Linked DNA regions of Homo sapiens: all the other regions are linked to region 1. Evidence: fine-mapped expression QTL. A gene starts in region 1. Each other region holds a variant in brackets. All regions are shown on one strand. Distances are from middle to middle. Region 1 holds the start of MUC4 (mucin 4, cell surface associated). Region 2 has its middle 13 kb from the start of TFRC. Region 3 overlaps XXYLT1 (xyloside xylosyltransferase 1). Region 4 overlaps LINC01983 (long intergenic non-protein coding RNA 1983). Region 5 has its middle 84 kb from the start of TNK2. Region 6 has its middle 69 kb from the start of TNK2. Region 7 overlaps LOC124909478 (a long non-coding RNA gene).

Region 1 (4,066 bases):
GCCAAGGCCCTGGTCATGCCCGGTCAGATGTGTGGGTGCCATCTCCCAGCCACGACCATCTCCTCTCCTGGCCCAGCTCCACTTGGTCCCCTTAGCGACGCAAAGGACTCAGCGCTCCACGACATGCCTAGCTTCTTCGGGTCGTCATGGAGACGCCCTTGCACACCAACAGTCCTTCACTCCTTCTCCGGGTCACGCCCCCGTGCTTTTCCACGCCCACCCCAGGTCTTGCCCCTCTGCGCTCCTCTCCACAGACCCCACTTCCTGGCTCCACATGGAGCTGAGTGTCCAGCTGGTACCCAGCACATTTGGGCTCAGCTTTAAATCACAGATTTGGAAACTCAAGAACTTGGGCGTCAGGAGGTCCAACCGTTCACCACTGCTTTTTACACAGGGGACCGGGGCCCTGGGGAGACACGGGGCAGGGCCTGGTCACAGGGGCCAGAACAGTTCACGGCAAAGACTTGGCCCTGGGGCTCCTAAATCCAAGCTGCCTCCCCGGCGCCCCAAGCCCCAGCCTCGCTCTGGGAGTCATGATTCCCGTGGAGACTCCTTCAACCACATCTGCAGGGCAGGGCCGTGTGGCGGCTCCTTCCGGCCTCCACGTCCTCACGGTGGGATGAGCACTGGAGCGGGGTTGTGTGGCCAGGGTGGGGTGGGGGTGCTGGAGGGTGGGGAGGTGTAGGGAGGTGGTGGCAGTTTCCTTTGCCCTCAGCCTAGTCCTGAAACATCCCGAGGTGGAAGGGTCCGCTTCACCAGCATGGCTTCTCTTGCAGCCTTTAAACGGCACTCGCCTTCTGACTCACTCCCAGGAAGCTCCTCAAATATGCGCCCAAGAAATATTTTCCCTCGGCGACTGTTCTTAGCCTGCTGAGAGGCAGGGCAGGAGCTGAGACTCTAACCCCAGCTTGAACTCTGGACCCCAGACTCTCCCCCAAAGACTCAGACACCCAGAAACACAGAATAAAACTTGGTCCTGAAGCCAGAGGGACAGCCTGGAAAGTGTGGGGAAGAGGACGGGGGCCCCCGAGGGAACATCTCCCACAGGCCTGGCATCCCTCCCCTCCCAGCTCTGTACACGGAGGAGCCCAAGGCCAATGCCGGGGCTACGAGCCCCAGGCAAGGCCGTGACCCAAATGGAGGCTTTTAAACCCGAGCTCAGAGGTAAGAAGCCCACGGCCAGCACCTCCCGGCCCTCTGCGCCCTGGCCGCCTCCTCCGCACCACCCTCCCGGCCGGCCTGCCCCTCTCCTCCTTGTCGCTTCCCTTGCTTGCTGCTGTCTCCCGATCTTCTCCTCTCTCCATTCCCAGGGTCCTCAGTTTGTCTGCGTCTCACCTGTCTCGTCCTCTCACCCTGCAGCTTTACATGAGTTTTCTTCCGTCTCCATCACCCAGCTTTCCTGGCATCCCCTCTACCCCCAGCTCTGTACACAAGGGTGTACATCTTTCTCCTTGACTCTGTTCCTCTTGCTCTGGCTCTGCCTGTCTTTCTCTCTGCGAGTAAGCCTGGGCTCTCACCATGGATCCTTCCAGACATCGCCGGGCTGCTCTCTGGCCCTCTGTTCTCTTTTCTCTCTCTTTCGAGCATTCTCCCTCTGTCTTTCCCCTCAGATCTTGTCCCGTATCTGCCAGTTCATGCCTCCTCTTCCCCACTTTTCTCCTCTTCTTATTTTTTATTTTATTTTATATTTATTTATTTATTTATTTATTTATTTATTTATTTATTTATTTTGAGACAGAGTCTCGCTCTCTCTCCCAGGCTGGAGTGCAGTGGCGCGATCTTGGCTCACTGCAACCTCCACCTCCCAGGTTCAAGTGATTCTCCTGCCTCAGACTCCTGAGTAGCTGGAATTACAGGTGGGGCCCACCACGACCGGCTAATTTTTGTATATTTAGTAGAGACGGGGTTTCACCATGTCGGCCAGGCTGGTCTCGAACTCCTGACCTCAGGTGATCTCCTGCCTTGGCCTCCGAAAGTGCTGGGATTACAGGCATGAGCCACCGCGCACGGCCTCCACTCTTCTTTCTCTCTCCCTCTTCTCTTCCTCTTCTTTCCCTCTCTGGGTCTCTCTCCACCTTCCCCCCATGTTGTCCCATTCATCTCTTTCTCCTTTCCCTCTCCCTCTTTTTCTCTCCCTTCTCTTCCTCTTCGCTGTCTCCCTTTCCCCTATTCTCTCTCTCTCTCTCTCTGTCTCCCCGGACCTCTTTCTCTGACAGCTCCCACCTCCCCCAAGTGCTCCCCGCAGCCAGCCTCATCTGCTGTCTCCATCACTTACCTGGGACCACATGCGGAAGGAGGCAGAGACACAGGCAGCTCAGGGACACCCAGGGGACCCTCCTCCAGCGTGCCCCCTTCATGGCTGCGGCAAAAGTCCCCCTGGCTCCCTGGGGAAGCTCCACGGCCCAGCAGCTGCAGTGTGAGGAGCAGACGTGAGCCCGTCCCCTCAGGCGGCTGGCCCGAACCAAGTGCGTTTCTCCGAAGGGGCCAGGGAACCTGGGAAGAGGACAAAAGAGGGCGGGGCCCCACGCTAATCACCCTTTTCTCTCCTCAGCCCCACCCCACTACCCCACCAGGAAAGAAAACACCGATACACCCGTTGCTCTGCTTCTCATCAGCCTGAGCTGAGTGGCGGGAGGGATGGGAGGAGACATGGGGGAATGGGAACAGGTCACACTGGAAATGGGTGGGCCACCCTCCTAGCCGGGTTCCTGGGTCCTCTCCTCCCTCCCCAGGGGCTGCCCCTGTCCCACCAGAGCTTTGGGCTGCTGGGAAGAATGGGGAAGAAAGGGCCCCAGAGGGAGCGACCTTGGGGCTGTATGAATGGGGGAAAGAGAGTGAGACTTAAGCAGACCCCAAGGAATTGGGAAGCGGGGAACCATGTGGGTGAGGGGCAGGAACAGAAATGCACTGTATGCCGTCTTTTGGAAAGGGGTGGTGTGCTTGGAATATCTGCTCAGTGCAGGCGCGTGGCAGACCCCAGACGCGTGGCAGACCCCAGACGCGTGGCAGACCCCAGACGCGTGGCAGAACCTCAGTGCAGATGCGTGGCAGACCCCAGACGCACGGCAGATCCCAGACACATGGCAGACCCCAGACCCATGGCAGACTCCAGACGCGTGGCAGACCCCAGACGCGTGGCAGACTCCAGACGCATGGCAGAACCTCAGTGCAGACTCGTGGCAGAACCTCAGTGCAGACGCATGGCAGACCCCAGATGCGTGGCAGACCCTCACCAGATGGTGGACTTCTTCTTTCCAGGGCAGGGAGCTGGAGCCAGGGTGCAGGGAGCCAGGGACAGTCTGGGAGACTGGCCTGAGGGAGCTGGCATGGGCAGTGGGTTGAAGGCAGAACCTCGGTAGGAGGAAGCGACTGTAACCTGTGAGGAGGTGGAGCTGCTCCTGGAGACCTGGGGGCTCTGCTCACCCCAGTTCCACCTCTTGGAACTCACAGGCACAAGCGAGGAGGGAAAGGGACCCCAAGTAGGGTTGTAAAGACGAAGAGGGCAGTTGGTGTAGCTCTCTGCAAAGGAAAACGGGGATACCTCCGCTCCCCTCTTTGCCACAGTGTGAATCTCTGCTTCTGATTCCTCAAGACTTGATTCCCGAATGTGGGGTGTCTGTGGGGTGACTCGTCCCAGAGCAGGGACCTTCGATGCTCAGACACTGTGGGGCCCAGGACAAGGACTCAGGGTTTCTGCATTCCCAAGCAGAGCCAGCCTTGTCCAGCAAGGAGTAGGCAACCGACGCTGTGGCGCTGTCTCCGAGGGTCACGGAGGCCCTGTGACCACTTGCTTCTAGAAGCTGAAAGTCTGTTCATGGCCCCAGGCCAAAGCCTGGGCCACGCCATAATAATGCGGATACCGTGGGGAAGTGGCGTGGTCCCCCAACAGTCCCTCCAGCTCTGGGTGGACGAGCTGACCCTGTTCTTTCCTGGAGGTAAGAAAATCATAAAGGTAAAGAGTCATGTGGAGCATCCTGTGGGCGCCTGGACGGGGCAGCAGGAGGGACCTACTGCAGGGAATTCGCAGACACCAAGGCCCAGCTTGGCCTTCGTGATCATTTTGCAC
Region 2 (4,066 bases), 280 kb after region 1:
GCAATAATACTTCTGATAAACTGTGCGCCAGATGGCCAAACATTGCCTAAAAAAAATGACTAAGAAAGAGGCCTTTGAAAAGAACATTGTGAAGTGGGGATGACTGATGATGTAAATAGGAAAAATGAACAAATGTGTGAAGAAAACATTTGCAAACAGACGTCTACATCTAAATCCCAAGTCAGCAAATCTAGTATTCAGGAAAAATACCAAATAGGCAGAAACTTTTTGGTTTCTTCAGCTTTAATATACACAGTAGACAAATTTTCCTTTGGTTTGGAAAATGTTCCTGCCAAAACTTGTATTTCTTATACATGGAAATGTGGTCAAGGAGGCAGCTGTACAGTGGTTACATTTGTGAGAGCTGGAGTGGCTTCCCTTGGTTCATCTCACACAATCCCCTAAGTGGTAGGAAGACCCGTATCCCAGGGCTGGGGTGCCCAGGTGTCAGAGTGCGGTAACGTTCGCTGAGCACCTATGGTGTCCAGGTACTGAGCTGGGAACTTATATTTGTATCATCTTACTTTGGCCCCCAACAATTCTGTGAAACAGGTATCATACCTATTTTATAGATGAATAAGTAGAAGTGTGAAGAATATAAAAGGATTGGCTGAAAGTGGCACAGCTTTTAAATAGCAAGACCCTAACTTCAGATCTCTGTGATTTCTGTTTTTTTTTTTTTTTTTTAAATAAATGTTAAGAGATATAGCAATGGGGATCTCACCATGTTGTCCAGGCTGGTCTCAAACTCCTGGGCTCAAGCAATCCTCCCTCCTTAGCCTCCCAAAGTACTGGGATTACAGGTGTGAGCCACCATGCCTGGCCAGGTTTCTGTATTAAAACCACTTTTTACTATATCTCAGGTATGGAAATATGAAAACACTGTTGTAGCAGGCGGGTAGTTGAAGCTCTGCACTCAGGGTAGGCTGACGTACTGCCAGGCTCTGACCAGGACCTTACAACAATACCCATCCTTGGAAGGTTTGAGTCAACTTTATAGCTGAATTTGATGCCAGGAGCACAAAGCAAAAGATCCCCATATATAAAGACAAGGTTATAAGGTACAGTGTGCCTGGTACAACTATCTTCCAGAATGCTTCCCAGAAGTAACATAGCTGGGCACCCTGGCACATGTTTATACTCTCAGCTACTTGGAGGTGCTGAGGCAGGAGGATCATTTGAGCCCAGGAGTCAGAGGCCAGCCTGAGCAACATGCTACGAAGGGGGGCAGGCTTCTCTGATAAGGTCGAGCCCAAGTAGGCAATGAGAGCAGAGAATTCCAAAGGGAGAGACAGTTCTGGGCCCGTGAGCCAATCCTGCTAGCCAGGTCCCCTCCAACCCCCTATTCCAGGCAGACCACTTCTGTGTCAAGGTCTGAAATCCAGCCTTGACTTTATTTTATTTATGTATTTTTTGAGACAGCTCTGCTGTACAGGCCAGAATGCAGTGACATGACCATAGCTCACTGTAACCTCAAGCGATCCTCCTGCCTCAGCCTCCCAAGTAGCTGGAACTACAGGCATGTGCCATCACACCTGTCAAATTTTAATTTTTTTTTGTAGAGATGGAGTCTCACTGTGTTGCCCCGGCTATTTTTGAACCCCTGAGATCAAGGGATCCTCCAGCCTTGGCCTCCCAAAGTGCTGGGATTACAAGCGTGAGCCACCACGCTGGGCTAATTTTTAATTTTTTTTTGTAGAGACAAAGTCTCACTATATTGCCCAGGCTATTCTTGAACTCCTAAGCTCAAAGGATCTTCCAGCCTCCTCGGCCTCCCAAAGTGCTGGGATTACAGGTGAGAGCCAGCATGCCTGGCTCTAGCCTTGGCTTTATTAAGGTACAGGCAGGTTTTCCTGCAGGTAGTAAGATGAATAAAGGTTAGATTGGTTTTGAGATCCAGATAGAGGCTAGACTCTAGCCTAGCGCTTCTTTTTTTTTTTTTTTTTTTGAGACGGAGTCTTGCCCTGTCTCCCAGGCTGGAGTGCAGTGGCGTGATCTCTGCTCAGTGCAACCTCCGCCTCCTGGGTTCACGCAATTCTCCTGCCCCAGCCTCCCGAGTAGCTGGGATTACAGGCACATGCCTCCACACCCGGCTAATTTTTGCATTTTTAGTAGAGACGGGGTTTCACCATGTTGGACAGGCTGGTCTCGAACTTCTGACCTCATGATCACCTCAGCCTCCCAAAGTGCTAGGATTACAGGCATGAGCCACCACACCCAGCCTAGCCTAGTGCTTCTTAAACATTCATGTGAGCTCCATGCAGTGTCACATCTATAATCCCAGCACTTTGGAGGCCAAGGCAGGAGGATTGCTTGAGCCCAGGAGTCCAAGGCTACTCTGAGCTATGATTGTGCCACTGCAGCTAAGCCTTGACTACAGAGTGAGACCTTGTTTCTTAAAAATATATATATTCATATACATATATTATTTATTTTCATTTATTATTTATTTATTTATTTTTGAGAGAGAAAGAGACGAAGTTTCACTCTTGTTGCCCAGGCTGGAGTGCAGTGGCGCAATCTCAGCT[C/T]ACTGCAACCTCCACCTCCCGGGTTCCAGTGATTCTCCTGCCTCAGCCTCCTGAGTAGCTGGGACTACAGGCACCCACCACCACGCCCGGCTAATTTTTGTATTTTTTGTAGAGAAGGGGTTTCACCATGTTGGCCAGGCTGATCTCTAACTCCTTACCTCAAGTGATCCACCTACCTCAACCTCCCAAAGTGCTGGGATTACAGGTGTGAGCCACCATACCCAGCCCTTGAAAATATTTTTTTAAAGAAACTTTAATGTGCAGATAAGTCCCATGGAGGGGACGTGTTAAAATGCAGATTCTGATTCAGAAGGTCTGGTGGGGGTCCAAGACGGTGTTTCTAACAAGCTCCTAACTGATACCCAGGCTGCTGCTGGTCTTAGACCAACCCTTGAGTAGACTTTAGAGGAAGAAGTTTTTATTAGCTGTTTCTACAACACTCCCCACAGAAAGGGCACCCTGTGTGGCCAGCTGGCATGAAAGCGGTTTCTGCTTGGCAGCTATTTTTAGGTAGCTGTAATGCATTCTATTTTTTGCATTCTAAGCTTTTCAGTGGACCAGGGCGATCCCTGGGGCTGTCCCAGCTTCAGCAACGGTCCCTAAGACCATTCAGCTACTTTGCAGCCACTGCACAACTGCCAAACAATCCACTAATCCTGATCTTGAAACAATTTTCCCTCCTGAGAAGACACCAGACCTCAGCAGGAAGACTTGGCCTGCACAGCAGTTCTCTTACCCCACACGAATTAATAAATAGGCCTCATGAATCGGGATTTTGTGCCCTTGGGTAGCGAATTACCTGATGACTCTGGTGAACTGACGAAACTGAGTTTGTGAAACTGTGAGCCGGAAGAACAGTCTACAGCTGTCGTGGACTCCCCTGAACCCCTGGGAAGACGCAGCTCAACAGCCAGTCCACACGAACCCTGCTCTGAAACCTCTCCTGCAGACTGGGCCTGGGCTAGAGAAGAACAGGAGTTTTCTTTTCTCCTTTTTTTTGAGACGGAGTTTTGCTCTTGTTGCCCAGGCTGGAGTGCAGTGGCATGATCGTGGCTCACTGCAACCTCTGCCTCCTGGGTTCAAGTGATTCTCCTGCCTCAGCCTCTGGAGTAGCTGGGATTACAGGCGTGCACCACCACGCCCAACTAATTTTTGTAATTTTAGTAGAGATGGGGTTTCACCGTTTTGGTCAGGCTGGTCTCAAACTCCTGACTTCGAGTGATCCACCCGCCTCGGCCTCCCAAAGTGCTGGGATTACAGAGATGAGCCACCGCGCCAAGCTGTGAATTGATTTTTTAGTGAAACTTCAGGGAGCCAAGGACTTTGGCCCCCACAGTACCATCTGGATTATTGGGAACAGGTGCAAAATATATAGGGCCAGCGAAAACTCTCAAAGGAATGATTGACATTATAAATTTAGAGAGGAAGGACTGCCTTCCTTTCTGTGACAACAGCACTTTAATGTTCCAAAACAGGATGTCCTTGGATTTGGTTTTAATGCTTATGTATATAAGGTTAGCTATTGCCAGGAGACTGAT
Region 3 (4,066 bases), 620 kb before region 1:
ATGGTAAGTTTGATCCCCGCATCATCAATCATCCTTTCAGTTTCGTTTGATCAAATGTTGGGCATTTATACAGCTCATTTTACAAACCATACAAATCAGAAGGTAGAAGTCAGGAGGGCCTGGCACCCCTCATGCCTGCCCTCTTGCAGAGCAGTGACAGCTCCACAAATGACCTCACTCCCATTAAAGAAAAAAGGAAGGAAAGAAGGAAGAAGGAAGGAAGGAAGGAAGGAAGGAAGGAAGGAAGGAAGGAAGGAAGGAAGGAAGGAAGGAAGGAAAAAAGAAAAAGAAAAGGAAAGGAAAGGGGAAGGAACAGAGGGTGCTGGAGAATAGGGAAGAAAGGTCTGTTCTGGGAAACAGAACAGTAGGGGTTTTGGAATGCTCAGTGTCTTAGAACTTAGACTAAAGACTGGAAACACCAGCTCAGGGAATATTCCATCGTGGTCATCTGATTGCTGGAACATGAAACTTGGAGCACATCTGCAGTGAAATGGGGGAGGAATAAAGATACTGAAAGGACATTCTCCAGAACCATGAGGACAGAGAGACTTCAGCAGAAAATAGGCCACTAGTATTTTGGGGTCCTGCTTCAGGAGCAAAACTTTGGTCCAGAGAGGTTTAGGGCTGGGTTTTTTTTTTTTTTTTTTTCACTTTGATTTCTGAGGTCACTGAAGGACCATGGGTAATAAGGTCAATTTGTGCTGATTTATAAAAATCAGCCTTCTGACTTCAGAGCTGTGGCACACATTATTTTAGACTCTGAGGTCATGTTAGTCACAGGTGTTGGGCTGGCCTGGCCTGAGGAGCAGGTCGACACACCCTCTGGGCGCTGAGGGACACAATGGGGACGGCATCTTCACTTTCTTCCTTCCGGTCCTTCCTGAGTGCTTGCAAGTGAGCCCAACCCTTACTTCTCTAAAAGAGGCTCACACCCCATCTACATACCTGGACACTCCCTCTCCTTGCACAACAAGACCAGAGGCCTCTCCCTTCCCTTTCCCACCTCTCTTCAGTCACTTTCACTCAGACCTTTCTTTTCCTGTGAAGGCTTCCTGCTCCCTTGGCCCTCAAGCTCTGAAGACCAGTCCACAGCTTTCTGGCTCTAGGGTCCCTGCAACACCTACCACGAGCTCTCAACCTCCCCTCTCACCTAAGAAGTCCAGGCCACTGTGCTCCTAAGTGCCTGGACCGCCTCCTCAGCTGCCTTCTGCTACATGATCAAGTTTCCCCAGAACTTTTGAAAGCCACCACAGAGCTGCTCCCAGACATGTCATTCCCCTCTTCAAAACCTTCCATTGCTGGTTCCCTCACCACAACCCAACAACTGGAACTCTTCGTTGAGCTTCACTGTGCTCTCCAGGGATCCTCAAGTCCAGACCATTCTTTCAGGTCCATCCCACAGAAGAACGCATGCAAAAGTACTTAAGTCACTGGATGAAAATGCAAACCATATTACTCCATTGGTTAAAATGCCACCAGTGGTTGCAAATCCCACTGTCCCCAGGATAAAGTCCCCAATCCCTCGCACAGCTTTCAAGGCCCTGAATAGCCTGACCGGGGTGTGCTCCAGGCAGCTAAGGCTTCAGCTTCTGGGGCACATCAAGCTCCTTCCACCCACAAAGCTTTTCCACTCAATATGCTCTCGGCCTCACTCTTCTTCCTCCGTGTCTTGGCCTGGCTAAGTCCCACCCACTTGTCTCACCTTAAATGTCACTGTCTGGAGGAAGTCTTTAGTAACAATCCCCCCCCACACACCCTGAATCCCCCACTCGGGCAGCACCTGGACTTCCCCTTCGTTGCCCTTATTGCAGCTGTTCCCATTATCTGCTTAATGTCTATCTTCACTGTACATTCCATGAGGACAGAGACCGACCCCATCTGTTTTTCTAACCCCCATGTCC[T/C]TAGCACCTAGGCAAGATCTGGCTCACAGGTGAAACTGAATAAATCTTTGCTGAGTGAGTGAAGTGCTGGTGATAACCTCTCCACGGACCTGGGCCCTCTAACCCACAACACTGGCTGAAGTTTTTTTTTTTTTTTTGAAACAGACTCTTGCTCTGTCACCCAGGCTAGAGTGCAGTGGCGCGATCTCGGCTCACCGCAACCTCCACCTCCTGGGTTCAAGTGATTCTCCTGCCTCAGCCTCCTGAATAGCTGGGATTACAGGTGCCCACCACCGTGCCCAGCTAATTTTTATATTTTTAATAGAGACGGGAATTAGCCAGGCGTGGTGGCGGGCGCCTGTAGTCCCAGCTACTCGGGAGGCTGAGGCAGGAGAATGACTTGAACCCGGGAGACGGAGCTTGCAGTGAGCAGAGATCCCACCACTGCACTCCAGCCTGGGCCGCAGAGCAAGACTCCATCTCAAAAAAAAAAAAAAAAGATAGAGACGGGGTTTCACCATATTTGTCTCGAACTCCTGACCTCGTGATCCACCCGCCTTGGCCTCCCAAAGTGCTGGGATTAAAGGCGTGAGCCACCATGCCCGGCCAGCTGAAGCTTTGCTTCTCACTCCTCCCAACTGTCTCTTCTGTGTCCCTTCTCTTGATACCAGCCTCCACTGTTATTATTAATATTCATTCAATTTTTTTTCTGAAAATTCCAATTTATCTGTATAGTGCTATGAGGAGCCCTAAGAATACAGTCAATCAATCAGACAGGCAATCTCTTCCTAATAACTTGTCCTAGTGTTTACTGGAGCGACTGAAGAGCTGAAACATACAGAAGGGGAAAGAAATGGGATTCCACCCCTGGACATTATTCCTTTAAGCTTCTTTGATTTTAATTGCTTTGCATGCACATTGAGGTAGAGTCCCAGTTGATTGAAACTTTTTTCATTTGCAGCTAGAAGTGAATGATTCAGGCTGCATTCCACCGAACATGCTCTTAATATTATGGAAAGACCCGGGGCTGAGGACATGCCTGGACATGATTAACAAAGTTGTGCATTTGTAAATTAGATGATTTCCAGGAAATATTTAAAACCTCCCTTTCTTCCTAAACACTTCAAAGAGGTGTCCTTGTTTATTTTCAACCTTTTACCCCCAACCTTTTTTTTAAAAAAGTAAATCCCTCCTCTCTCACAAAGTCTCTACAAAAGAAAGCCACTGTGATATGAAATCCATCCAAAGACATGAGTTCAACTAACGTCTCAACGAGCTTGCTTGGCTCTATATTTAGATGTGAGAGTAAACATCTGACTCTGGAGAAGGACTCATCCCAGAGACACCACTCCTGAACAGGAAAAAAGTCTAGGGGATGGAATTAAATTAGTTTAGCTCCCAAAAGAATAGTTAATAGAAACAGTCTCTAACCAGCTAACCACAAATATAGGATTTGCTCTTTACTCCTTGGAGAAGAAAATCCAGGGAGTGAGGCTGAAACAATCCTCTGTGCTGCCCAGAGGTAGGGCTCAAACACGGGACCAAATTGAGGACTGGCTAAAACAGGTCTGGAGTGGGAACAGCTTTCCATAAGACACACCCACTAATGTGCCATGTCAGTTTAGCATTGCCATGGCAACAACCTGACAACCAGAAGTTACCACCCTCATCCTAGAAATTTCTGCATAAACTGACCCTTAATTTGCATATAATTAAAATGGTATAAATATGAGTGCAGAATTGCTGCTGAGCTGATACTCTAGGCATGCTGAGTGCTCTAGGTACTCCTCAAGGAGCAGTACCTCTGCTGCTGCTGTGTACTGGCCATTTCAATCAAAGTCGCTGCTTAACACACTGGTGCACTCTCGAATTGTCTCCTATGAGGAGCCAAGAACCCTCTTGGGCTAAGCCTCAATTTTGGGGCTTGCTTGTCCTGCATCATAACTGCTAGCTCCCATATCTGTCCACTGGGTGGTATCTCAGAATCAGAGACTCTCAAGGTTGAATGGCAACATTTCTTCCAATTTCCACACCACTGCTCCATTTCCCTCCACAGCCAACTTTGTGTAAACATTAAGCACTTACACAAAAATTTTGTGACAACATGACAGAGATGCAGAACCAGGAGGTGCAGCCTCATACAGTAACATCCGATGGCTATGGGTTTAAGCTCGGCGCTAGCTTTC
Region 4 (4,066 bases), 24 kb after region 1:
GAGGCTGGCAGAGGGATGCCTGACCAGGGGCCAGTGGAGGAGGGTGAGGTTAGCCAGGCAGAGGCTGGCACCACTGCTGTGGGCCGAGGATGGCCTGTGCTAAGGCCCTGAGGTAGAGAGACACTTTGCCCATCCTAGGATCTGAAAGAAGTCCAGGGGGATTGGAGCAGAGGGAGCGGGATGAGTGAGGTGGGCTTACACAGCGGGGGATTAGGGCAGAGGGAGCGGGATGACTGAGCTGGGCTTACACAGCGGGGGATTGGGGCAGAGGGAGTGGGATGAGTGAGCTGGGCTTACACAGAGGGGGATTGGAGCAGAGGGAGCAGGATGAGTGAGGTGGGCTTACACAGGGGGAGATTGGAGCAGAGGGAGCGGGATGAGTGTGGTGGGCTTACACGGGGGGGATTGGGGCAGAGGGAGTGGGATGACTGAGCTGGGCTTACACAGCGGGGGATTGGGCAGAGGGAGTGGGATGAGTGAGCTGGGCTTACACGGGGGGATTGGGGCAGCAGGAGTGGGATGAGTGAGCTGGGCTTACACGGGGGGATTGGGGCAGAGGGAGCGGGATGAGTGAGGTGGGCTTACACAGCGGGGCAGGAGGCAGGTTCTTTGGGTTTCCGAGCTCTGTGAGCATCAGAATGTCCTGAGGAAGCTGATTTCAGTGCAGGCTCTGGGGCCGGCCATGCCCTCCCTGGAGCCTCAGTCTGTGAGTCTTCCCTGGGACCTGTTTCCCCAAGTGGTGCCGAGGCAAATGGCCGGATGACGACATTTCAAGGGTGTTATTGGCCATCTGAAGGATCTGGGACTTTCCCTTTTTTTTTTTTTTTTTTTGAGACGGAGTCTTGCTCTGTGGCCTAGGCTGGAATGCAGTGGTGCGATCTCAGCTCACTGCAGCCTCCACCTCCTGGGTTCAAGCAATTCTCTGTCTCAGCCTTCCGAATAGCTGGGATTACAGGCACATGCCACCACACCCAGCTAATTTTTTGTGTTTTTAGTAGAGACAGGGTTTCGCCATGTTGGCCAGGCTGGTCTTGAACTCCTGACCTCATGATCCACCTGCCTCGACCTCCCAAAGTGCTGGGATTACAGGTGTGAGCCACCTCACCCGGCTGAATCTGGGACTTTTTCTAAGAAAGCAGAAGCCATTGCGACCAAAACCATTCAGCAGACAGGATTTGAACCCAGCTCGGTCTGATTCCAAAACCAGAAGGACACCATGTCTTCCTTAAAGGAAGAAGGCACATCAGACCATCTGTCAAGTGGGTCCACTGAGGGTCAGAGGAAGAGCCTCCAGATGAGGGAACGGTGTCAGCAAAGCCAGAGCCCACATGGGACGAGGCGGCCCCAGAGCCGATGGCCTGAGCAGAGCCAGTCGTGTGTGTTATGGGTTTTCGCCTTAGCAGAGGCCTCACAGGCTCCCTCCCCACGTGTGTCTGCATCCGAATCTCATTTTCGCTTTGCAATACCACTGTGAGAAGAGCCTGCTGGGAGGTTCTTCCCCTTTCCCAGATGGATACACTGAGGCTCATGCAGGTGACACCATTTACCCGATGACCTATGTAAAGTCAGAAAATGTGCCGGGGGTGCTGGGGCCCCGGGAGGAGGTTGAGCTGGACTCGCCACTGGGCAGCCAAGGAGGCTGGGTGGTCCTGGCACACACAGAGGTCATGGGGCAGCATGGCCCCTGCTGTCGTCGACCACTTGGAGACTGGAGGACTTGGCCTTTGGATTTGGATAGAGGAGCCCTCTGTCATGGGTGCTGTTCAGTTCGGGGAGGTCACGGAGGTCCCCAAATGGGGATGGTCTCACTGCCGTGCCGCCTTTGCTGGCTCCTCCCCACCCTGCGACTCAGTTTCCTCGTCTGTGAAATGAGGTTGAGCTAGTTGGTCACTACCCAGTTCAGCTCTGACACTGTCGGACTCTGAGTCTGCCTGGGTGGGTCTCTGATTCCGCATGGGTGGGTCTCTGATTCCGCATGGGTGGGTCTCTGATTCCAGAGGATGCTGGCACAATGAGAGTTTTGGGGCTGGGACCGAGGTGATCGGGTGCCAAGAGGAACAAGGAAGTAAGGGGATGTTTCAAATACAGTTTCATTCCGGGTTGCTCTGAGAACTGAGTGGGGAACAGGCCCTGACGGCATCCAGGGACAGGGCCAGGACGTGTGGGGGTTAGGGGGGTGCAGGGAGTGGCAGGCCTGTCCCAGCTCCGTC[T/C]ACTAGCAGAAGAATGGGCAGCCGTGAGCTCAGGTGCGCCAGGCAGGGGAAATGGAATCGGCCGTCATGGATGTCCTGGCAGAAGTGGAGGCCGAGGAGGTCCTCTAGAAAGGGGTCTCACCCTTCTCCACAGGCCCACAAGGAGCCTCTTTCTCCTTTCACACCCAGGACGGGCCAGCAGGACCAGAGCAGTGGCCATTGAAAGTAACGTCCAAACAGGAAGATAAGGCCCAGGAGGCTCTGAGTCCCGGGTTCCCAGAGCTTTCCTGCCGCCACCCAGAAGCCCAGCAGGGCCCTCACTGGCAGCTGGCCCTTCCTCCCCAAGAGCCAGAGCTCAGACGGAGGCTCTCCCAGGGATGGCCTCCACCAGGGCTGCAGCAGAGCCTCGGCCATCTCTCAGCCCTCCCGGACAGGGAACCCCCTCCTCCCGGTTGGTTCTCCTGGGGTGAGCTTGCATGGCAGCCTGCTTCCTCCCACCTCCTGTTCCCTACACCGTCCCCACCACCGCCCTCCCGCATCAGGCCCCTGTCCTGCCTGCCCGTGCCTGATCGCCTGTACCCCGATCCATCGCTCTTCTTCTCCTCACTTCTCTCCTCCCTCGTGCACCTCTGGCCCCTGCCCATTGCTGAGATGGTTGACCCCTTTGGCCCTCAGCAAATTTAACATTCAGGAAAGGTCCACATTTCATAAATCCCTGTAATTCTAGGGTTGGGAGATGCTCCATCGAAGGTCACTTTGGCCCATCCCGGCAGCCCAGGATTGAGGTCTCCACCTTGCCCCAGACACAGCCAGCCCCTCAGAAACCAATGCCTACCAGCCAGACCCACGGGAGGACAACCGATGTACAAACCAGAAGGCCGGTGTATTAATTTAAAATGGAAAGCAGAACTCCCAAGCTGGCTGAATGCTTCATTTGCAGGTTGATTTATTCTCCCCTGTGTGGGTCTGTCAGTCTTCCATGGAGGCTGATGGAGGCTGTCCCTTTGCAAGGATTGTGTCTGGTGACGGGGCTGCCCCTTCACAGCTTCTGGATAGCTGAAGACTCAAATTGGAAAGCTTGACGAGCCTAGAAACAGGATTAGGGGAGAGGAGGGTGTGAGACTGCATTTCCCAAAACAGAGCATTCTTGCATGAACAGCTTTCCAAAAAAAGAAAAAAAAAAAAGACACCGTGGATAATGAAGCTTGCAGAAGGCTGCGCTCACCCGCTTCTGGAAATTCGCACTGTGCATCGGCCTCATCAAAGCTCTGAAACAAACACCACCTTACAGGAAGTTTTCCAAACTGACCTGACCACGAAGTGTTTTCCCTCACCCTCCCTAATACTGTCCGACGGGCAAGGCCAGGCTACTGCCAGGAATGATTTCCCAGGCCTCTCTGAGGTGGGGAGGTGGGGAGCTGGGTCCCCGTGTCCAAGGCCCCTGCCCTCCCACCAGGCTTTTTCCTGGGAGCAGCCTCCCAGGATGCCCCCTTCTTGTTCTCCTTTGACCGGCTTTTCAGGTACATCCTTTCTCGATCCATGTCACTGATGCTGCCTAGGCACTGAGGGCCTGCTCCACCCTGATGTCAGCCGGGGAGGCCTTTCTGTGCAACAGAAATACCACACCAGCAACACAGGGACAAAAGGAACAGGTTACAGGGATTAAACACAAAAACATAAACTGTGGGTGCCCTGAACTAATAAAGGAGCAGATGTCCTCAAGGGATTTAGACACAGAGGCATGGACCTGGGCTGAGTTTTGGGGTGAGGTGTGGGGAAACCAGAATTGCTCCAGTTTATAGAGTGGCCAAGATCTGCAGGGTCAGGGATGATCTGGGAGGGAGGGGTGAGGAGAGCCTTGGAAAGGAAGACAAAGC
Region 5 (4,066 bases), 180 kb after region 1:
AGTCCCTGCGCAGACTGCGCCTGCGCACCACGGCCGGGTCAAGGCGGGGCGCTAGTGGGGGACATTGCGCCTGCGCACCACGCGACGCCCGGGCCGGGGTCTAATGGGCGGGGACGCCGCGCCTGCGCAAAGCGGACCCGCGGACCGTGGCGCTGGGTGGCCACGGAGGTCCCGCGCTCCCCGACCGAGATAGGGCGGGCCCTATTTCGGGGAGATGTTGGGCACCAACTTTTTTTAAAGCCCCGTGGGTGGTTCTCCGGGATCTCCCAGACCGAGAGGGCCTGAACGTCCAGACCTCAGGGAATGGGGTCGAAGGGGCGGCGCTCGTCCGCGGAGGTGGGCGGGAGCGGCCCGGGGCCTCCGGCCTCTAGGGAGCGGGAGTGACCCTCGGTTTCTGGCCTCCGAGGGGCGGGAGCGATCCTCAGCCATGTCCCTAGCCTCTGGCTTCCGGCTGATTTTTAAATTTTTGGTAGAGGCGGGAATCTTGCTCTGTTGCCCAGGCTGGTCTCGAACTTGTGGCCTCAAGCGATCCTCCCTCCTCGGTCTCCCGAAGTGCGGGGATTACAGACAGAGCCACTGCGCACGGCCGTGGTCAGCTTTGAAAGCTGGGTAGATCCCTTTGGCTCATACGCCTTTCTGCTAGCTTACCCTGATTCTGCTTCTGGTTCAGATAGTATTTTAATATTTCTAGTGTGTCTTTTTGTAAGATACCTGAAATCTTTTTGTGGAATGAAGTGGCATGAAAAATAAACCAATAATCATTAGTAATTATGTTTCCTGCCTTTTCACTTTATTAAAATCTTCGTCTTGTGCATCATGTTTAACAATTTTGAGTTATTTTAGTAAATTTGCAAGGGTTCGGTCCCATTTTATTGATATTTGGGTTGTTTCCTATTTTTGCTCTTAATAACACCGTACAGAACATATTTGTGACCATAACTTTCTCTTTAGGATTATTTTTTTTAGATGTATGCCCCAGACGTGGCCTTTATTGGCTTGCAGGGAATGAACATCATACCTCCTAGACTTATTTTTTTAAAGTTATGCTGTTTTAGTCCTGGGTTAGTTACCTAATTTTGTTTGGTTTGAGACGGAGTTTCGCTCTTGTTGCCCAGGCTGGAGTGGAATGGCGGGATCTCGGCTCACCGCAACGTCTGCCTCCAGGGTTCAAGAGATTCTCCCGCGGAGCTTACAGTGAGCGGAGATGGCGCCACTTCACTCCAGCCTGGGCAACAGAGCAAGACTATATTGCTTTAATTTACTCTGCCGGCTATCTGGAGAGATGCAACCTCATCAGCAGAAATTATTTCCACCTGCTGCTTTTTAAATGTTATTTCCTATAGCCAGGTACTGAGCCCTTCAATTGAGGTCTAAACCCTCCACCCTCTCCCTCCGGGATTGCCAAGCCTGTGGTTTCAGTTCCATGCTCCCAGGTAGATTATGTCAACTCAAAGTCAATGCGCTTATGAAATACTTTTTGTGGTTTTTTTCTTAATTTTAAGAGGTTTTTTTTTTAAATATGTTTTTGTTTCATGGAGGC[G/T]ACACCCTCTGTCTCTGAGTTGTGGGAGCCTTCCTCCTTCAGTCTGCATGTACTGAAGCCACTGTTTGCCGTACAGCCCCTCAGCCGCAGCAGCCCACAGTGAGGTGCAGGTGCTCACGCCATCGCCCCAGAGAGCTCCTCCATTCGCCCCTCCACCCGTAGCCCCTCGAAACCACTGCCCTGCTCCCCGACACGGTACACTGTCTTCTCCAAGATGTCATGTGTTGGCATCCTTCGGCCTGTGGCCACCGAAACTAGCTTCCTTCACCGGGCATGTAGCCTGGGAGACCTGGGGCATTTGGGTGCATCTTTCCACTGCTGGTTGGTGTCCCCTATGTGGAAGCATCCGCGTTGGTTCACGCCTTCTCCTGCTCCTGCCGATGGACATTTTGTTTTCTTCCAGTTATTGGCAATGAGGAATGAGGCCTAAACACTTGTGTGCAGGTTTGTGTGTGCACGTTTAAGTTTTCCCTTGGGGGACATTTCAGCAGTGGGGTTGCTGGATGACATGGTAAGGATGTGCTTAACTTCTTAAGAAACTCCCGGACCACTTTCCAGCATGGCGGGACCCCTCCCATTCCCACTGCAGCTTATGAGGGTCCCAGTTCCTCTGCATCATCACTAGAACCTGGGTTGGCCCATGGGTTTTGTCTGTTTTTAGCCATTTTAATGGATTTGCAGAGGTACTGCTGACTGGCATTTCTCCAGCATCTCTATGATGTTGAGCCTCTTTCTCGGGCAATATGCCCTCCTTATACCTTCTTTCATGAGGCCTCCATTCCAATATTGGCCCTCTCTTTAATACTGGGGTTTTTACTTTCTTATGGTTAAGTTTTGATGGTTCTTCATATATCCTGCGTGCCAGTAGGTTGTGAGACGTGTGATTCACAAATGTTTATTTCTAGACCATAGTTTGTGTTTCATTCTCTTTGGATTTTTATATTGCTTTATAGAATTATAATTTTAAATTTATGACTACATTTAATTTGTCAATCTTATGAATCATGCTTTTGGTGTCATGTCTAAGAACTTTTCGCCTAACCCCAGGCCATACGAATTTTCCCCTGTGTTTTTACCTAAGGGTTTGATAGCGTTAGGTTCTCCATTTAGGCCTTTAATAAATGTTGTGTAACATTTTGTGACCGCCATGGCCATACCTTTCTCCATCTCTCACGGTATCGTGGGCATTTGCAGCTCCCAGTGCGCCGTGCTGTTCCCGTCTTCTTGGTCTGCTCCTCCTGTCATACCTTTCTCCGTCTCTCACAGTATCGTGGGCGTTTGCAGCTCCCAGTGCCCCGTGCTGTTCCTGGCTTCTTGGTCCGCTCTTCCTGTGAGTTCCAGGGCACGTCTTAGTGCTGGCACTGTCCTGGTCCATCGGGGGTCCCATGAGCTTCTCCATGTGGGAAGGTTGGGACTGTGATGTTGACGGGATGCCCTGTGAGTCAGGAGGAGGTGCTGACGGGGGTTTCCATGTAGGAGAGAGAGGTGTTTGGTATTCCGGATGGGGCAGACTTGAGAGGGGACAAACTTGAGAAATGCCACCAATGAGAAGTGCAGGCACAGCAGGTCTCGGGGCTGCCCAGCCGTGTGGGAGCCAAACGTGGATGTGTCAGTGGCCACACCAGGAGGTAAACCCTCAACCAAGGGCCTCTGGGTGTCCAAGACCAAGTCTTGCTCAAGAGGTGTGTTCAGCTGAGCCAACCATGGCAGAAATGCATAAGGGAGATCCCACGGTTCCTCTGTTTAAATCCCCTGCTAATCCCACCAGACTCAGAGAAGCAGCCAAGTCCTCACAGCAGCCTGCAACCCCCGCCTGACTCGGCCTCCTCTTGGCTCTGATTCTCTGTACCCTTCTATCCCTGTCTCTTCTTCCATCAGAGAGGAGATCCGGCACGTTTATCCTGGTGGATTCAAACCCATCTTTGCCCCATATATAGTCACCGGAATGAATAGGTATAATCTAGAAAGAGTCCTTTTGAAAAAGAAAAAAGCAGGCCGGGCATGGTGGCTCATGCCTATAACCCTGCAGGGACCAGCCCCACAGGGTCGGTGGGTCTCTCCCTGTGTGCGGCGATGAGAGAGTGTAGAAATAAAGACACAAGACAAAGAGATAAGAGAAAGGGCAGCTGGGCCCGGGGGACCACTACCACCAATGCACGGAGAACAGTAGTGCCCCGAATGTCTGGCTGCGCTGTTATTTATTGGATACAAGGCAGAAGGGGCAGGGTAAAGAATGTGAGTCACCTCCAATGATAGGTAAGGTCACGTGGGTCACGTGTCCACTGGACAGGGGGCCCTTCCCTGCCTGGCAGCCGAGGCAGAGAGGGAGAGGAGACAGAGAGAAAGACAGCTTATGCCATTATTTCCGCATATCAGGGACTATTAGTATTTTTACTAATTTACTACTGCTATCTAGAAGGCAGAGCCAGGTGTACAGGATGAAACATGAAGGCGGACTAGGAGCGTGACCACTGAAGCACAGCATCACAGGGAGACGGTTAGGCCTCCGGATAACTGCAGGCGAGC
Region 6 (4,066 bases), 170 kb after region 1:
ATGGCAACGGCAGCAGACCTGAGAATACGTCATCTTGGAAGCGTGTGAGTTGCAACATGTTTTGATACTGAGGAAAATTTCCCCTCATGTACGGCCACCCTCCCATCAAATCTTTTCTAAGCATCTACTGTGTGCCAGGGACAATCCTAGGTGCTGGGACACAGCTGAGAACCAGAACAAATACTCTGCCCTTACTGAACTCACACTCGTCTCAGGGATCACAGCCTGCAGCGGCTGTCCTTGGTAAAAGCATTAGGCCTCTATGCCAAATAGTCGTCCCTGCGTATCCGTGGCAGGTTGGGTCCAGGACCCCCACGGACACCAAAATCCGTGGATGCTCAAGTCCCTAATATAAAATGGCAGAGTATTTGCATATAACCTATGCACATCCTCCTCCATATTTTAAATCATCCTCATTTCAAGTTTTACATTTAAGTTGTACAGCAACTCCAGGATTACTCATAGTACCTAATACAATGTAAATGCAGGTAAATAGCTGCTACACTGTGTTGCTTAGCGAACAATGACAAGGAAAAAAAAAAGTCTGCGTGTTTGTAAGGATGCAATTTTATTTTCAGTACATAGTTGGTTGAAACCACACATGTGGAACCGATGGATACGGAGGGCCACCATATTCCAAAAAACCATCCGACTTCTTTTTTTTTTAATATAAAAATGTAAAACCTCTAAAGGCCACACCAGATACCAGCAGATATTTAGCAAGTGTTATCACATTAAAGAACAGGGTCAGGCAATGAAAGAGCTGCAAACTGTTCTTCTGAAAGGCAAATGACCCACACACTTTGAAAGCTGTCGAAAAACATCTGTGGGTATCAGACACCACACCCAAGGCTCACACGCCGACTTCAGGTTGGGTGCGTGTCTCTCTCTTCCATACTCCGTCACATACTCACACACACTAAGAGAAACTCTGTTCCACAGATTTGAGAAAGAAACTGGCTAAAATTTTCAAAATGTAGGTCTTTAGGAAAATATCGCAGACTAACAGATGCCTGCCGGCAGCTGAGAGAGGTGGCTGTGCACATGTGCCTGCACACGAAGGTGAGGGCGAGTGGTGCTGAAACTCACAGAAGCAACCCCGGCCCGTGTGCCCGCTCAGACAGTGCTGGTGGTAAACCACACGCACCTTCCTTCGCGGATCTCCAGAGTCATCCACCGAGACACCACATCTCTAGACGCCAGGTCCTTCGCGATGGGGGCGTATCGCTCCATAAACCTTTCGCCTTGACTGTTAATGAGAATGCCTCCCTCTCCACGACATCCTTCCGTAATGAGACAACCAGCACCATATGTGCCTGCAAAAAACCACACATTTATAACCTAACAATTGCTGGGTCTCTATTTCAAATGCATTACTTTTTTTTACAAGATATTTTTTGGGGGAGAGACAAAAAAGATATGCAGAAGGCATTATATGCAAAACTGAACAGAAAGAACAGTTAAGATACAGTAGAAAGTCTGGATAACAAAAAGCACTGACAAGGCTGACAGCTGCAGCAGAGGCTGGGGCAGAGTGGCGTCCCCAGAGAGGAGAAAGGCCGGCCCACAGACCTCTGGCCAATACTCTGATTACAGCCCGGTGTACGTTGGATGCCTCAAATTTTGTTTTAATTTTTGAACATTCTTTTGCGCTACGATACTGTGGTGACTAGTTAAGAATACTAGCTTGGAGAATTCATATCTAAGTTACCCAAACAGTGGCAAGGACAGTAATAATGATTATTTTAGTTCATCTTTACACTGCACTTGCTATGGGCAGTTCTAGCTGCTTTCCACATATTAAACTCATTTAAGTCTTACAACAACTCTGGGTAGTACGACCCCCTTTCTCAGTGACAAGCAAATTAACGCTTGGTAACATCCAGTCATGCAGCTGAGGACAGAGCTCAAACCCAAACCTGGGCAGTC[C/T]GGCGGTCTGTGCCCCAAACAGCGGCTCTGTGACTCCTCAGTGCGATGAGAAACAGGGCGTGCCAAGCTCTCGAATTTTAACAAAGGAGATCAAAAACCCTAAACTAAATGTATTTCAAAAGCTACAATTTTTATTAGTATACAAAAAGGGCAATCTTGCTTTCAAAACAAGAATGTGATTCTTGCATCTCACCTGCCTTTTGATTTTCTAAGTTTCCATGCTCTCTTTTCTGTGGTTACTTCTCACATATTGAAGACAAAGCATGAGAAGTGGAGCTCTAAGCAAATTACAGAGGGAATTCAGGGGCTCACTGACATTTTACTGATTAAAAACAGTAATAAAAAATACAACAGGCCGGGTGCAGTGGCTCATGGCTATAATGCCAGCACCCTGAGGGGCCGAGGCAGGAGGATCGCCTAAGCCCTGGCGTTTGAGACCAGCCTGGGCTTAAAATGGTGACACCCTGTCTCTACCAAAAACAAAAAAACCCTCAAAAATTAGCTGGGCATGCTAACACATGCCTGTAGTCCCAGCTATTTGGGAGGCTGAGGTGGAAGGATCGTTTGAGCCTGGGAGACAAAGGCTGCAGTGAGTCGAGATTGCTCCACTGCACTCCAGCCTGGGCAACAGAGCAAGACCCCATCTCTAAACAAATTAAAAAAAAAAACCTACAACAAATCCATTTCTTATTTTCATCCCTTCCAGGGATCAGAAAGCTGACACTGACAGAGAAAGAAAAGACACAGGTCTGGTTCTTTGGCACCACTTCAGGGGTCTCCATCGTCCACAGGTCAGAAAAGCAACCCAGAAAAGTCCAGGACGAGTCACCTCAAACAAGAGGCAGACGTGTGTGTGTCTGTCTCTGACTCATTTTGAAGAACCTCCTCCAAACTCAAGACTTCAACTGTCATTTCTGAGTTAATGTCTCCAAATTGCACATTCGTAACCTCAACCGTCAGACGTCCCCAAGACAAGCTCATCTTCCCCACGACAAGCTCCCTCAGTGGTCACGGGGGCTGAGCCCAGCGCCCAACGTCACATGGGGTTCTCTCATGGCTGTGTCTTAACTTTACATCCCATTGTCACGGAAGCTCTGTGTTGTCCTACAAAGCTGAAATCTGCCTGTGCTGCTTCTTGGTTCCACAGCATTCACCCAGCTCTCAGAATGCTCACTCAGTAAACCCCGATGGAGACCCTACCATGTGCTGGGCGTGGAGCACCCCAGTTAATGAGAAGACCTGCCTGCCCGAATTGCTGACGACCTCACTGCAAAGAGGGACACTGAACAATTCCTGCTTTACTTTTTTTTTTTTTTTTTTTTCAGACGAAGTCTTACTCTGTTGCCCAGGCTGGAGCGCAGTGGTGCGATCTCGGCTCACTGCAACCTCTGCCTCCCAGGTTCAAGCATTCCTCCCGCCTCAGCCTCCCAAGTAGCTGGGATCACAGGTGCATGCCACCATGCCCAGCTGATTTTTTTATGTTTAGTAGAGATGAGGTTTCACCATGTTGCGCAGGCTGGTCTTGAACTCCTGACCTCAGGTGATCCACCTGCCTTGGCCTCCCAAAGTGCTGGGATTACAGGCGTGAGCCACCATGCCCGGCCTCAATCCCTGCTTTACTGCTGGCATAAGTATCACCAAGGCAGGGTTTAGGGCTCTTGAGAAATGCATAAGATGGTGGCCCAAACTGCCTTAGAGGAAGGGGAGTGTGGGAAAAGTCTCCTTAAGGAAATGACATTGAAGTTAGGACCTGAGAGCTAAGGAAGCTGATCTTCAAAACCATGTTATTACATAAAACTATGGAAGAGCAATGAGTAGGCACCACACGCTTACAAGACACACGAGCCGAACGCTTTCCGGGCAAGGCGTCCTGCCCTACCTGTGGGGTGGAACTGAACAAACTCGAGGTCCTGGCAAGGAAGGCCTGCCCTGGTGATCATGGCCGTGCCGTCGCTGGTGCTGGTGTGGGCAGACGTGCAGCTCAAGTAGTTGCGCCAGTAGCCTATGGAAACAACAGAGAGCAGTGACTGCACACAGTGGCCCACGTCCGGACCTCCTGTCTAATGAGATCACAGAACGGACAGGGCAGCCCCCGGGCACCATCTTCTCAGTGCTGTGTGCACACAACCCCCAACTC
Region 7 (4,066 bases), 220 kb after region 1:
AGCTGGACTAGCCAATGGGAAATCAAAACGAAGATACTGGAGAGATGTTCCCAGAAAAGGAGCATTCCTAATGGGCTTGGCCCTAGTCACATGCAATTCCCCAGATGTGGTTGGTGTGGCCAAGGTTCCAGCATTTGTCAGCTGCTTTCTTGCCACTTCTTGTGCTGTGAGGAGTATCCCCTCCCCAATGCCAGAGGCAGTCGTCCTCTAACCCCCTTCAGAGTAAAGGGCCAGCAATTGGCAGTCACAGGAAAAGTAGTGAGACAGGAAGGTGCGGAGCATGAAGTCCCACCATACCGGCCTCCAGTGTCTGGCACAGAATATGACGAGGAACCTCCGTGAATTGGAATCTTCCACATCTTGATATATGGGAGTTTCTGCTAGATATAATTTGACTTAAAAAAGAAAGAAATATGACCTTCTTCACCTAAATATTGTAGAAGAGGTAATGATTGCAACCTGGATGTTTTACATTCTGAGATGCTATTAAACCAATATTCATCACAAATGTATTGATAATTTTTTAGAAGAACAGAAGAGATCCCATCATATTAAATGAAGTGTATCAATTATAAGATGCATGCTAACTCCAGAAAAAGCAAAGCATGAAAAAAATCTGTCTTAGAATGGAAAAATACAGTAGTTAAACTATTTTTAACTGGAATTTAAATGCAACATTTTAGGATATGAAGCTGTCAACTCATTTTGAAAACTGCTGGCTCAGATGACCTCAGCGATAGGAAACCTCTAAAAGATCATGAATCTAATCAGGTAATTTTCTGTGCCTTTGCCTGAGAGTCTAGCTGAAAGTGGTGCAGTTTTTACAGAAGAGGAATAACGTGTCCCGAACTGGGAACCCTTCACCGGCCACCACTCCAGGCGGCGCTTCACTGTGGAGTTTTGGTCGCCAGAGGGCTCCAGGGGACTGCTGGGGAAGGCCAGGACATGGAAGAGGGCCTAGAGCCAGGGTTACCCGGGAGGGGGTGGACCCATTTTGCCAAGCACCTGAGGACCATACCGTACAGGATCCTCTCAAAACCACCCGCACACTAGGTGGGAATAAAGGATAAGAGAAATTAATGTGTGCTTAGCATGTGAGAGCTGACATTCAGAGTCAGCCTGAGCAAAGAGATTCATACGGAAGGACGAAGCGCATGTTGTGAGACAAAGAACACCCAATTATAAGATAGAAAACCTTGGTTCTGGGAAATTCCTGAACCTGTTTGCCCATCCATGAAAGAGTAAGAGTGATACTACCTTCTCCACCTTATTCTTGTAACAGAACTGCCCGTTTCTTTCGTGCCCACAGCTAAGTGTTTAATAGGAACAATGTGACAAATATAAGGTCATTGCTCTTACACAAAAGGTTCAAGAAAACTGAGAAAGATCTAAAAATTCCCAAAGGAATGATTTTTCAAAGTACAACATCTTAATTTACATAGAGAGAAATAATACATTTTGTCTCAAATAAAGATTTGGCCACATCCTAAGTATAGCATTGAAGAGCAGTTAAGCTATTTCTTCAAAGAAAATATATCAAAATTAAACCTGTACTTTTTGAGTGTGAATTCTAACACACAAACCTGGTGCAATATATTTAAAACAAAGCAGAGATTAATTAATTAATTAATGATTCCCCATCACCATTTTCAGAAAACCCAGTAACTTAGTGCCTTAAGATGTTCAAATCATCCCAAAAACTTGAGTTACTAAATATTTTCAAAACCCTTTCTCAAGCTTTGCTATTCTAGCTTTAGTTGGAAGAAGAAGCTTCCAAGTTAAAGATGGTAGACGAAATACTGACCCAGTTGTGTCCTTTCCCTCCTGAGAAACCATGGTGGCTATCCACGATGGAGAGAGAGCAGCGGAGACAAAAAGTGATTTGATGGCCTCGCATCCGTGAGAAGGAGCATCATCTGTGGACCTTCCTGGGGGTGAGGGGCAGAGAAGTGAGGCAGGC[A/G]TCAGAAAACAGGAGGGTCGATTAAAATCTGTACATTGACAGTCAACCCTCATTATCCTCCCTCACCGATGCCAGCACCCCACCCCTCGGGTAACCAGTGAGTAGAACACCAACAACCAACAAGCAAGCAGCTGCCTTCCAGAGAGGAGAGGAGAAGGTTTTCTCCAGAGGAAGGAAACCATCCAGACCAAAGGCATCACTTACTAACATGCGGAAACCCCATCGACTCCCCGAAGCAAAACCTCTAGACGAGCCTTTCACTAATGATAACACACTCATTCTCCTTCACGTGTTACTATTAAATGTGAACAGTGAAGAATCACCACCTAGACGAGCCTTTCACTAATGATAACACACTCATTCTCCTTCATGTGTTACTATTAAATGTGAACAGTGAAGAATCACCACCTAGACGAGCCTTTCACTAATGATAACACAGACTCATTCTCCTTCTTCACGTGTCACTATTAAATGTGAACAGTGAAGAATCACCATCTAGACGAGCCTTTCACTAATGATAACACAGACTCATTCTCCTTCTTCACGTGTCACTATTAAATGTGAACAGTGAAGAATCACCATCTAGACGAGCCTTTCACTAATGATAACACAGACTCATTCTCCTTCATGTGTTACTATTAAATGTGAACAGTGAAGAATCACCACCTAGACGAGCCTTTCACTAATGATAACACAGACTCATTCTCCTTCATGTGTTACTATTAAATGTGAACAATGAAGAATCACCATCTAGACAAGCCTTTCACTAATGATAACACAGACTCATTCTCCTTCTTCACGTGTCACTATTAAATGTGAACAGTGAAGAATCACCATCTAGACGAGCCTTTCACTAATGATAACACAGACTCATTCTCCTTCTTCACGTGTCACTATTAAATGTGAACAATGAAGAATCACCAGACATTGAAGGGAAACCCATCTCAATGGGAAAAAAGACCAAGGTAAACCAGCAGGCGGAATGATTGTTGAGAACCTAACATCATAGCAAAATAAGAAATAAGAGTTTTATATTATCATTCACTTAGTGGCACTGTCTGAGGTTTCACTATACAAATATATTGCTTTGATATGTGTGTGTATATATACATACATATATATATATATATATATATATATATTTTTTTTTTTTTCTGAGTCTCGCTTTGTTGCCCAGACTGGAGTACAGTGGTGTAATCTTGGTTCACTGCAACCAAGGTCTCCCGGGTTCAAGCGATTCTCCTGCCAATTTTCATCTTTTAAGTGGAGACAGGGTTTTGCCATGTTGGCCAGGCTGGTCTCAAACTTCTGACCTCAGGTGATCTGCCCGCCTTGACCTCCCAAAGTGCTGGGATTATAGGCATGATAGAGTTTTAACTATTAGAAGAAACCAGAGGAAGCTACCATTGGAATAGATGAAACATCAGCAATACATTAAAATATCAGCAATTTCACATGTTCGAGATTACTTTTAAAAAATAAAAAGAGAACAGAATTGATTTAGTTTCTAGGCCAGCAACCAAGGAAAAAGCAAGGAATGGAAGATTTTATAATCGCATAACAATAGCAAGATCTTACATTTCTATTGAGCTTTAAAGATTACAGGCCAGGCACGGTGGCTCACGCCTGTAATCCCAGCACTTTGGGAGGCTGAGGTGGGCGGATCACAAGGTCAGGAGTTCAAGACCAGCGACCAGCCTGGTCAATATGGTGAAACCCTGTCTCTACTAAAAATACAAAAATTAGCTGGGCGTGGTGGCGGGTGCCTGTAGTCCCAGCTAGTCGGGGGGCTGAGGTGGGAGAATCGCTTGAACCCAGGAGGCAGAGGTTGCAGTGAGCTGAGATTGTGCCATTGCACTCCAGCCTGGGTGACAGAGCAAGACTCTGTCTCCTAAATAAATACATAAATAAAAATACAAAAATTAGCAGGGCGGGGTGGCACACGCCTCTAATCCCAGCTACTCGGGAGGCCGAGACATGAGAATCTCTTGAACCTAGGAGGCAGAGGTTGCAGTGAGCCAAGATTGTACCACTGCACTCCATCCTGGGCAACAGATTGAGACGCTGTCTCAAAAAAAAAAAAAAGAAAGAAAGAAAGTAGAAAAA

What was found. PIP is the estimated chance that this variant, and not a neighbour inherited with it, causes the effect.
Region 2: its variant is fine-mapped to the expression of MUC4 in putamen (GTEx, PIP 0.97).
Region 3: its variant is fine-mapped to the expression of MUC4 in prefrontal cortex (GTEx, PIP 0.96).
Region 4: its variant is fine-mapped to the expression of MUC4 in esophagus mucosa (GTEx, PIP above 0.99).
Region 5: its variant is fine-mapped to the expression of MUC4 in tibial nerve (GTEx, PIP above 0.99). The same link has a PIP of 0.9 or more in cerebral cortex, hypothalamus, kidney cortex, nucleus accumbens and pituitary.
Region 6: its variant is fine-mapped to the expression of MUC4 in cerebellar hemisphere (GTEx, PIP above 0.99). The same link has a PIP of 0.9 or more in anterior cingulate cortex, liver and sun-exposed skin.
Region 7: its variant is fine-mapped to the expression of MUC4 in thyroid (GTEx, PIP above 0.99).

What each region holds. Positions count from the first base shown.
Region 1 is chr3:195,809,461-195,813,526 of GRCh38, forward strand. MUC4 (mucin 4, cell surface associated) reads right to left here and starts at 2,469. Exons shown (of 25, transcript NM_018406.7): 1 at 2,276-2,469. The coding sequence starts at 2,357. RefSeq lists enhancers at 1-165, 166-729.
Region 2 is chr3:196,093,490-196,097,555 of GRCh38, forward strand. No RefSeq gene overlaps it. Among named protein-coding and RNA genes, the nearest start is that of TFRC, 13 kb to the left of the region's middle. RefSeq lists an enhancer at 3,421-3,470. The variant C/T (reference allele first, on the strand shown) is at 2,529.
Region 3 is chr3:195,184,875-195,188,940 of GRCh38, forward strand. The region is part of intron 2 of XXYLT1 (xyloside xylosyltransferase 1); the gene reads right to left. Among named protein-coding and RNA genes, the nearest start is that of XXYLT1-AS2, 39 kb to the left of the region's middle. RefSeq lists enhancers at 1-563, 2,786-3,301. The variant T/C (reference allele first, on the strand shown) is at 1,902.
Region 4 is chr3:195,833,340-195,837,405 of GRCh38, forward strand. LINC01983 (long intergenic non-protein coding RNA 1983) reads right to left here. Exons shown (of 2, transcript NR_134939.1): 2 at 3,116-3,276. Among named protein-coding and RNA genes, the nearest start is that of MUC4, 23 kb to the left of the region's middle. RefSeq lists a silencer at 665-865. The variant T/C (reference allele first, on the strand shown) is at 2,211.
Region 5 is chr3:195,990,288-195,994,353 of GRCh38, forward strand. No RefSeq gene overlaps it. Among named protein-coding and RNA genes, the nearest start is that of TNK2, 84 kb to the left of the region's middle. RefSeq lists a silencer at 1-204. The variant G/T (reference allele first, on the strand shown) is at 1,541.
Region 6 is chr3:195,975,936-195,980,001 of GRCh38, forward strand. It overlaps the pseudogene SDHAP1. Among named protein-coding and RNA genes, the nearest start is that of TNK2, 69 kb to the left of the region's middle. The variant C/T (reference allele first, on the strand shown) is at 1,930.
Region 7 is chr3:196,025,333-196,029,398 of GRCh38, forward strand. It overlaps LOC124909478 (a long non-coding RNA gene), which reads right to left. Exons shown (of 5, transcript XR_007096234.1): 2 at 1,805-1,928. Among named protein-coding and RNA genes, the nearest start is that of TFRC, 55 kb to the right of the region's middle. The variant A/G (reference allele first, on the strand shown) is at 1,961.